3 linked regions of the Homo sapiens genome follow. The protein of the gene in region 1 interacts with the protein of each later gene in a biochemical or structural test. Each region holds a gene or a part of one and is shown in the gene's direction. Other genes may lie near its edges. The genes, in order: FBXO7, TEC and CAPN5.

What was found.
Region 2: of the proteins of FBXO7 (region 1) and TEC, one has a biochemical effect on the other in vitro, tested with the Homo sapiens proteins (one large-scale study listed by BioGRID).
Region 3: of the proteins of FBXO7 (region 1) and CAPN5, one has a biochemical effect on the other in vitro, tested with the Homo sapiens proteins (one large-scale study listed by BioGRID).

What each region holds. Positions count from the first base shown.
Region 1 is NC_000022.11:32,488,170-32,491,822, forward strand, and holds part of FBXO7 (F-box only protein 7), read left to right. Parts: intron 1-2,916; coding exon 2,917-3,012; intron 3,013-3,653. UniProt on the Homo sapiens protein: Substrate recognition component of a SCF (SKP1-CUL1-F-box protein) E3 ubiquitin-protein ligase complex which mediates the ubiquitination and subsequent proteasomal degradation of target proteins and plays a role in several biological processes such as cell cycle, cell proliferation, or maintenance of chromosome stability.
Region 2 is NC_000004.12:48,259,713-48,263,365, reverse strand, and holds part of TEC (tyrosine-protein kinase Tec), read left to right. Parts: intron 1-3,653.
Region 3 is NC_000011.10:77,083,928-77,087,580, forward strand, and holds part of CAPN5 (calpain-5), read left to right. Parts: intron 1-924; coding exon of another isoform or gene 925-959; coding exon 960-1,124; intron 1,125-3,653.

The sequences.
Region 1 (3,653 bases):
TAACCAATATGGAGGGGATCTGTGTTTCATGAAAGTAATTCAATGTCAAGTTCATTATTGAAGATTATTGGAGGAAAAACTACAATCAAAATGTTTGTTTAAACCTATATAAATTTGATGGCTATTTTATACAGATTGATACTTTACCAAAGGTTTGCATTCTAGGTAAGGTTTTGCTTAAACTCTATAAAATTATTAATAGATACAAAGAAGACAGGTTTTCCCTTTTATCATTTTTCAGTTAAACCAAACTGTGAGAGGCAGTTATAGGTGGTTGGAGCAGAAGAGATAAGGTGGAGAGGGGAACTGACATTTTTTAAGTGCCTGTTTCATTCTGTACTTGTGCCTGTACATATGTTATTCCATTTAATCTTCTTAGTAAACTTAGGAGGGTTTTAAGAGCCTAGTGGGAATGTTGTGGTACAATGGGAAGATGGCATTTATAGCAGTCCTTTAGGAAAGGCTGGCTAGATTGACATTGTTGCTTTGAAGGCCTAAAGGCTTATTCTTGTTCATTCCTAGGGGAGATCAGCCCTGAGAGATTGACTTATACTAACTAAAACTGACAGGAAAAGGAGATAGCAGAATACATATTTATAACGGTCTCTGATTGGATGTAGAGTCAGAAATTGGGAATTAGCTGAATTGAATTTTTTTTTTGAGACGGAGTCTTGCTCTTTCGCCAGGCTGGAGTGCCGTGGCGCTATCTCGGCTCACTTCAACTTCCACCTCCTGGGTTCAAGCAATTCTTCTGCCTCAGCCTCCTGAGTAGATGGACTACAGGCGCACACCACCACGCCCAGCCAATTTTTTTTTATTTTTAGTAGAGACAGGGTATCACCATATTGGCCAGGCTGGTCTCGAACTCCTGACCTTGTGATCTGCCCGCCTCGGCCTCCCAAAGTGCTGGGATTACAGGCATGAGCCACTGCGCCCGACCGAGTTGAACATTTAATGTCAGACTAGGCCAGAGTTTCTCAATCTTTTTATTCTCACTTCCCAAAGGAGCCGTTGGAGATTTTCCCCTCAATCTCTCTCCTTCATGAAATTTCATACCACAAATATAGTATGTTTTATTTATGTACTGTGACCCTTTGAAGGATCACAAACCAATATAATAGTTTTTCTTTTTAACCCGTCAAGGACCAGTTTTTGCCCCTGTTGGAAATGCATAAACTGGACTGATGAATTGGTATAGATGGCTTTTATCATGAGGATCAGAAAAACTTGAAATTCCTTGGCTACGACACTCCATATTTATCACCGTATAGGGAGGACCTTGTTATGGGGAGTAGAAACACTCTACACTTTACAGCAGTAGAGGTTTTATGCCCATTTTATAGATCAGGAAACAGATCTAGAGGAGGCTCACTTACTTAAGGGTCACAGAGCCAATAAATGGTGAAATACAGGATAGGAATAGATTTGGCTGACTCCCAGCCTTTTAAAACAACTTTTACAGGAATGTAGCTCAGATTGTTATTCTTTATCTGGTTTCTCTTAAATAAAGAAAAATGAAATGGAAGGGAGGAGGAACATTAAATACTGTTAAATTACAAGTTTATGGACTGTTATAATGAAGTATTTTTAATAAAGTCTTATGTTGAGTAGGAATATGCTGCTCATTTGGCAAGTCATTTTAATGAATTTTTACTGTGGTTCATAGCACCTAGTAACTATAACTAGGCACTGTTATTTATCCTTTTATTTATAAGTTCCTAATTAAATAGTTACATACCAGGTTGCTGAAGGAAAACATTCATTTAAAGAAAATCAATTTTCACATTTGAAAAAAGCCCTTGAGCCAAATTGATTTTAAAGAATGATATCTTGACAGCAAATTTCAACTCAAGATTGCAAGTCACACAACAAAGATTTAGACATTAGCTGCATATCTCTTTCCTTCTTCTTATCGATCCTGTTATACTGAGTGTTTTATTTGTTATAGATAGTGAAATACATAAATATGAAATGGGGAAGGAGCAAGCATAAATTGCCTACTGATACCCTAGGCACTGCTCGTGGAGCTTTCAATTATAACAACGCTTATCTGGTGTAGTGGTGGTGTCTCCTTTAAACAGTTGAGCAAAAAGGTGAGGATCAGAGGGGCAGGTTATTTGTCCAAGGCTATACACTTGGTAAATAGCAAAACAAGTGGGAACCTCGGCTGCAGTTTGCTAGTGCGTCCGTACTTTACTATGAGTCACCTGGGGATCTTATTAAAATATAGGTTCTGATTTGGTAGGTCTGTGGGGGCCTGAGATTCAGTAGTTCTAAACAGTTCCAGGTATTGTCAGTTCTGGTGATCTGTCGCCCACATGTTGAGTAGCAGTGTGGTGACTAAAAATGAGTGCTTTTGAGCCACACGGACTTGGGTTTGTGCACTGTTCTGCCACTAACCATGGGGCCTTGGACAGGCTTTCTGTACCTTGACCTGTTTTTAAAATGGAGATAGTAATTAGGAAAGAACTTCTGATGTGAAAGCTTGAAAAACGCTTGACACAGGTGCTGATACATAGTCATCATGCGATAAATGCTATTAATTTACCAGGTTCTAAGCGTTAACAGGAGCAGTTCTCCACTGTATCCTTAGTGCCCAGAACAGATTGATAGCTATCAGGAAATCTTCGTATGTATGAATCTCTCACAAGTCTTTTCTACAACTGCAGCCTATGAGCTAGAGAGGTTGGGCACAGCTCTACTAATTTGATATCATGGAATTTTTAGCTTTTATATCTAAGATTCAGTTTCATCAAGTCTTGCACTGTACTTCTTCCATGAGGGAATTTGGTTCATGCTTATCTTTGTGAATTATTTGTGAATATTTATTCACCATGTTGATTGGGTTTGGCAGAAATAGAGGACAGTTTTTTCACTTGATTTTGGGTTTTGATTTTACTTTAAAAAATATTCTAGGGGAAAATGTAGCCAACATATACAAAGATCTTCAGAAACTCTCTCGCCTCTTTAAAGACCAGCTGGTGTATCCTCTTCTGGCTTTTACCCGACAAGGTAAGAGATGAAATACTGTCACAATTTAAATGACTGTAAAGAATAGTAAGTATACTTAATATTCTTGGTGAGTATGACATCTGACTGCCCTCTTTTCTGCTCCTGGCGAAATGTTCCTCTTCTAAGACTAAGCTTAATATTCCTTAAGTGCTATTTACTTTATCTTTGTATCTCCATGCCATTTTGTACATATTTTTATTGTAGTCTCTTTTCCATGGACTATAATTGTTGATATGATTTCTTTCCACCTAAGGTTGGGAATACCTTGAAGGTAGGGAATATATCTTACTTTTGTATTCTTGTGGTCTAGCATGAGGTCAGGTACATAATAGATGCTCTTTCTCTCTGTGTAGATACATATATATATGTCTATATAGACATATATTTAGATATATATGTCTATATAGACATATATTTAGATATATATGTCTATATAGACATATATAAATAATACATGGTCTGTAATTGGATCTAAGTTTTTTTTTTTAAACCATTTATTGGAGGCTCTTTGCAGGCACTTAGTTGGATATTTCACATGCATTCTTATTTACTGCTAATGACTTCGAAGTAAATTATGTGGTACTTATTTTATAGATGATGAAATCATAATTCAATAAGGTTTATAATTCACTCGAGATCCT
Region 2 (3,653 bases), on another chromosome or scaffold:
TTTACCTTTCAGTGAAGTGCAGCTTCTATTAAGTCCAATATTATTTTAATCTGAAAGATGGGATTGGTGTCATTGATGGCCATGTGGCCTCAATGGAAGTTATCATTATTTCCTTCTGGAGGCCAGTTTATCACACAACTGCCTTACCAGCAGCAGCACCCTTACTTCCCTTTCCACTTGTGCCCTCCTTGGAATGTGAACCAAGTTCCTGTTTCTGGCTGGGCTGATGTACCCTGCCGTTTGTGGATGATCACGACTTTCCCAACGTCATTTCATCAGTTGAGTCATTCCTCAGGCTCCCTTAATGGGCTGTGAACTTCCAGCATGCTCTCCCAGTTGCTTTGTAACATCAACATTCTTTATGGTTACACACATGATGACAAGAGTCAGTTTCCACAAAAGTAGGAGGATAATTGTTCCTAAGCCATCTTATCTGTGCAGAAAAAGCAAAGCTCGATCTTCCCATGATGGCAGCTATGCATTGGCAATACAGAAAACAGGAGTGCTGGCGATTGTGACAATGGAGTGGGTGCAACAATTACTTTATCTTTGGAGGATGACAGATGGTTAAAAAGGCTTTTTCAGCAGGTACCACTAGGCACCATTGTGAACAAAAGCTTGGCTAGTAGGGATACTGCAGAGCTCATTCCTCCCACTGTGCTTCCACAAGCATCCTTCCCTTTTCTAAACGAAGTCTTTGAAGTCATTGGAACCTCCCTTTTCCAGGCAGTATAGTTTTTCTGTAATGTACTGGGTCTTCACAGAAGTTCTTTCCTAGGGAAAGCATAGTACCAAGCAAGTACTTAATATACTGAATGAATTTTCCAGACAATTTTGGACACTTTATAGTTAAGAAAAAATGATATTTGGGCCAAGAGTGGTGGCTCATGGCTGTAATCCTAGCACTTTGGAAGGCTGAGGCAGGTGGATCACTTGAAGTCAGGAGTTCAAGACCAGCCTGGCCAATATGGTGAAACCCCATCTTTACTAAAAATACAAAAATTAGGTGGGCCTGGTGGCACGTGCCTGTAATTCCAGCTACTCGGGAGGCTGAGGCAGGAGAATCTCTTGAACTCAGGTAGCAGAGGTTGCAGTTAGCTGAGATCGCACCACTGCACTCCAGCCTGGGCAACAGAGCAAGACTCCGTCTCAAAAAAAAAAAAAGAGACATTTGGTCACAATTACCCAAGTTGTACTCAACAATCTAAATTCTCTAAATTCTTGATTAGACTTTCACATCACTTGTCTATATATGGATTGAAATATAGAGCATTCAATTTAAGTTTTCTCAAGTGTATTGTTTCTTGTATTATTTAGAAATATTCTTCACTGAAAACATTCTTGAAAGGACAACATACATTATTATCATTATTTTCCATCTGTATATTTTTTCTTAGCATAGTGTTATGATTATCTTAGTTTTTATGGCTACAAAGAATGGCTTTTGGAGGAGGGAGGGAAGTAAGTATTCATTATGTTATCTCATCAGTTTTATGTTTCTAAAGGAGGAACACTTTTGTTTGGATTTCTACAATATATACTTTTGCCTTTTGTAACTATATGTCATTTGTTTTTCAAGGTTAAAGCTTTTAACCTTGAAATGCTTACAATAGAGTATCAAAGCGACAGACTTTAACTTGTCATGTACTATATGAGATACTTACAAGGTGAAACTCCCTGTCAAGTATCCTACTCCTTTTATTTTTAATTTTGGTGACATTATAATGTGATTTAGTAGGAAAAACCTTTGATTTTTCTTCTCTTATCCTTCATGGAATTCCAATGATATCTTTTGTTACTATTTCCTTAGAAACTCTTAATGTCCTCACATACTCCTCAATATTATGTTTCAACCACGACTTGTGGGATTTCCATATGACTGCCCCAAAAATGAAACTGGCTTTTTTTCTTACAAGAGTGATTTAAAGTTTCATTTTTCTGCCAATATGATTTAAGCATGCAACAAAGTTAGTTTTTACTATTAGGGTTATTTTTGATTTGTAGAAGGCAGTTGATTTCTTCATTTTCCTGCTTGGGTGATAAAAATGCTTGATCCTTCAACCATGCAGGGAAACAGAAATACAATTTAACTGGGTTTGAATGCTGTCAGACATGTAAATTTAGGTATACATGCTTTTGAATTTTTTTAAGGATTGTCAGTGTCTTTGTCACATACTTAAACCAGTTATAGAAGCATTGCATGAAATAATTCTTGTTCATAAGTTCTGGAGTCCTAGCCAGAAGACATTTTTTAGGCTCAGAGCTGTTGACACACCATCTTGCTTCCCCCAGGCAAAAGTTTGATCTTTGGGTGCCACCGAGGTTCTCAGACACCTGGTGTGCTCCTTGGACTCTCCTTGCCATCAGTAAAAAAAAATTGTCATTTTGTAGAGTTTTATATATTCCTTGTTAGAAGATGTAAACAATACTGAAGCTTACAAAGAAGAAATTAAAAATAACCCTAAAACCATTCCAGAGAGAATCTTTGTGAATCCCCTTCCAGTCATCTCTATTACCAGCTGACTTTTAATAAATCTTTAGCAATGTTCTAGAAAATAATTAAGGAGCATTATGTTACAACTGTTTATGTAACTCCAAATTCTACAATCTTTATTTATACACAGGTAGTTACTTTATGACGTTGTAATTAGTCCATGCATAATTTTCTTTGGGTAATTCTGTCATGTTAGCATACGGTGGTATTTTGAGCCACTCCCCAGTTGTTGGACACTTAGATTTTTTTTTTCTTTTTTTTTGTTTTAGAGACAGAGTCTTGCTCTGTTGCTTAGGCTGGAGCACAGTGGTGCCATCACCATAGATTACTGCAGCCTCGAACTCCTGGGCTTAAATAGAAGGTTTGAGCTTCAGCCTCTGGCTTCAGCCTCCTGAGTAGCTAGGATTGCAGATGCATATGACTGCATCCAGCTCATTGAAACGAAAATTAAGCAGCGATGAGGCCTTGCTATGTTGGCCAGGTTGGTCTTGAACTCCTGGCCTCAAGTGATTCTCCCACCTCGGCCTCCCAAAGTTCTAGGATTACAGGTGTGAGCCACCACACCTGACTGATTTCTAGCTTTTATTCATCAGTTTTAGAAGGTCATAAAATAACTCACTAGCAATGTGAAGTTTCCATTTTTTCTCTTTTTTGACCTTTTAGAATTACAGTGTCTCTGTTATGTGAGGACAAGAAGAGCCAGAATGCTTGAGGCCATGTTATGTACCCAGTTATAGGTCAGATAAAACTAGAAGAACCTGACAGGTCATTTGCAGAGACTGTGTTCTTGTTGGTAATGTGTAGAGCCTCATTTCATCTTATTGGATGTCTATAGGAAAACTTTCCAAGGATCAGTAACAAAACATGGAAGAGTTGTTATGTAACTGTGCAATGACATTTGACCTCAGTACCTGGTCTAGAGTTTATGAAACTTTGTGTGACCCGGGAAGGCATCTTATGTCCTCAGGAAACTCCAGCCTTCCTATCCATTGTGCCATTTCTCTACTGCTTGAGTAATCATGGCCCAGTAAGGTGTGCAAGGCAACCAGCAATGTTAGAGAATTTTGCATTAATGTAGTTTCTTGATAAAGAACTACAGCAGAGTGAGCTCCTGTTCAGATTTTTCTTTTGACATCTTTCTTTTTTTTTTTTTTTTGAG
Region 3 (3,653 bases), on another chromosome or scaffold:
GCCTTTACCCCAAAAGGATTGCACTGTTACCCTGGGCAGGCCCCAGGAAGAGTAGATCGGGGACTGTGGAGCTGCACCGCAGCCCAGATGGAGTTTGAGGGATGGGGGCGTGGATCATAAATGGGGTGGTCACTCAGGTGCTTGGCCGTCCGAGCATCTCTCAGCGCACCTGATATGCAGGCCCTGCCAGCCGCTGTTCCTTGCCCTGCCCTGCCCTCCACTCCCAGAGGCCTTCCCTGACCATGTTGGTCCAGTCTGTGTCCCTTGCACTTGGTCAGCACATTGGTGCAAAGTTCAGGGTGCTTGGCTGGGCCCACCTGGGCCCCTGGGGAATGGAGGGAGGGTTAAGGAGCCATGGGCCTGCTCTCTACAGAATTAGAGACGCCTATTCCCAAGATGCTGTGAGGAAGGCAGCATGGTGCGGGGAGGACCGGAGAGAATGAATGAATGATGCTGAGAGGGGTACCTGGGGCAAGGTTTTCCCACACCAGGCAGAAATGTGCCACTCTCTAGAGGTGGGGAGGGAAACCCAGAGGCACACGCTGCTTTCCTGTGGGAGACACACCAGCCAGGGAGCTGGCAGGGCTGGCCACTGGTCTGATTCCGTCTGAGGAGGTGTAGGGAAGGCTGGTCAAACAAAGGAAGGCAGGGAGGTAGGTGCGGTGTGGGCCAGGCCTGAGCTCTGTGTGGCCTGTGGGCCTGGTATCGCCTCTGAGCTTCAGAAACGAGAGAATCCAGTCTATGGAGTCAGGCCGGTCGGTGTCTGTCCCACTCTGCTGTATACCAGCTGTGTGACCTTGGGTAGGCTCCACGCCTCGCTGAGCCTTCCGTGCCTGTGCCATGGGGCTGATGATGTCCGCTTCACAGGGCACATCAGGGACCCAGGGACTCTGTGAGTGACCGTCTTCTTGCCTTCCTGTCCAGGTGTTCCCCCTCCCCTCCCTGGGGCAGCAGCCACCATGTTCTCGTGTGTGAAGCCCTATGAGGACCAGAACTACTCAGCCCTGAGGCGGGACTGCCGGCGCAGGAAGGTGCTCTTCGAGGACCCCCTCTTCCCCGCCACTGACGACTCACTCTACTATAAGGGCACGCCGGGGCCCGCCGTCAGGTGGAAGCGACCCAAGGTCAGTGTCTGGTCCCAGCTGGAGCTGGGTGAGCGGGCCCAGGCCCACCCACAAGGCTGGGCCTGCAGGGACATCGGGGTGGTGGGAGGAGGCATCCCTGGCCCCAGGCTGCTGAGAAAGTGAGGGTGCTGAAACGGTGGGATTTGATCCGGATGGGGAGCTTGGAGAATGGGCTGTAATCCTGTGGCCACCACTGGATTGGTTGAGGCCCAGCCAGGCCTTCACCCTCTCAGGGCCTCCACTTCCTCACAGGAAAAATGGGGCAGTAACCTCAGCCCCGCTGAGGGTCATTTTTGGAATAAAAATGGGGTGATGTGGATATGACCATTTTTGATAAAATGTAGATTGACATCCAAATGTAAGGAATTTACTTTCCTGATTGTTATCATCATGATTTTGAAATAGTCATTTGTGGTAGAAATGAAAAGTATTTATTATGATGATTAATCAATAATAATAATAATTGTAAAAAGATAGTAGTACCTACCTCATAGAGTGGTTGTGAGAATTAAAAGAGGTAATGCATGCAAAATTCCACTCACAGCCTGGCAGCCAGTACGGGACCATGGATACTGATAATGATGAACAGGTGGCGTCTCTCCGACCACTCCTTTTGGTCCCTGAGGCTAGAGTGTGTTACACAGAAATGTTTGGCCTCCTGGTGTGATTTCATCCCCTTGAACCCCGATTCCTGGGTGTGAGGGTGGGCTGGGGAGGGGTTCGCTGCTTGTCTGTGGGTCCTGCAGAATGGGGTCCCTGGTGGCCTGGGTGGAGGGGAGGCTGCAGGAGGTTACTCTCCCTGGCCTCCAGGGCTGTGCTAGTGACACTGAGGGTCGTCCCCTCACAATGCGGGAGACCATGCTGCTGTCTCAAGGATGCTCCAGGCTGGGAGGAGGCTGTGACTCCCGCAGCCCAGTAATCAGAGGAGGTGTCTTGGAGGTGAAGGGTGATGAGGTTTTTGCCCAAAGGGCCAGGTGGGAAAAGGCAGAGGGAATAGAAACTCACAGGTGGGAGCCCCTCAGGCTCATGTGGGCCTGTGGAGAGCCATGCCTGGGGTGGCAGATCTGGGGCCAAGATGCTCGACCTTGCTCTGTGAGTAGTGAGGTCCCGCGAAGGCAAAGGCTTTCAGCAGCCTGTAACAGGGTCAGATTTGCATTTTCCAAAGTTCCTCCTGATCCCCTGGGCTTTTTGGGAAAATGAAATGTAGTTTTCTAGTTTCCCTCCCAGGCTATGATCTCGAGTCCCTTCTGACTGAAAATACCCCGTAGATGTCCTTGGACTGGGACTCTTGAGTGGCAGAGAAACTGAGGCCAAGAGAGGAAGGTGCGTGTCCTAGATCACCCATGAGCTGCTAGCAGGGGTAGTTGAAGAGTCCTGCCTCCCTGCACCCCACCTTCCTGGCACCAGATAAAGGGCCCCTGGTGCCCTTGACCTCAGTCCCAAGAGCTGTAACAGAATCTCTGGCCCTGTACTGACTCTCTGGAAGGCCCAGGAGCCTCCTGGCCTGGCCACAAGAGTTCTGCCTCTTGGGCCCCCTCTCCCACGCCTTCCTCTCTTCCTTTGTCAAGTAGGTGGGGAGGGAGGCCTTGGCCTCAAAGGGCCTTTGTGAGGCCTTGGCTGTGGGGAGGAGGGCTGGGCACTCGAGCTCTTCGCCCTCCTCCCACTCCATCCCCTGGCTACCCCCGTCCTGACTCCCTCCTGCCCTCTGGCCATTGCCCAGACATTTTAGGTCCGTGGCTCCGAAAAGAGGCTGGTGAGGCCTGGCGGGAGCAGGCTGGGCTTGCTGCGGTGAGAGGAGGAGACGCCAGGTTGGCCCGCTTGGTACTCTCCTGCTGCGTGACCCAGGGGAGTCAGCTGCCCTTTCTGAGCCCCTTTCCTTGTGGGTTCAGGAGCCATGCCACACCTCCTCCTCTCGTTGCCTTCCTCGCTGGCTCACTTGGTGCCCTGCCCTTTCTAGACACGCAGAGCTGCCCTGCCCTGGATGTGGGGGCAGGTGACAGAGAGCGTATGGTGGCTGGTGTTCAGAGAGCTGTGTGAGTGGGGCCCAAGGGGCAGCAGTGATGGGGACTCAGACCAGGCTGGGGTGGATGGTCCACGGCACTGCCTGGATTTCCTAAACCATGTGTGTAGGCACTGCCTACTGGCTAGCCACAAGCCTGCAGGACAGGCAGCCCCTGCCCCACTAACGGGATGGGAGGTTTGTGGAGCAGGAAGTCAAGCAGGCTTGGCTCAGCTTGCTTGGCGGGCCCAGCCCAGTGGGTTATCATTAACGCCCAGCTGCTTGCCAGTGAGAGGGAACTTTGGCCTCAGGCAGCCTTGTTTCGATGGAGTCTTACCTGTGACCGCCTGTTTACAAATGAGAAGTCGTGCTGCATGCCCGTCCATCCCCTCCAGCTCCTTCTCTGAGTTGGTCCTTATAGTGGCTGCTCTGTTCTTAGAGGGTCTCCTCAGCCAGCCTCCCAGCCTCGCTGCCTCTCAAATGGAATGCAGAGGCTAGTTTTTGAGCCACAGTGAACTTGGCTGCAGCCT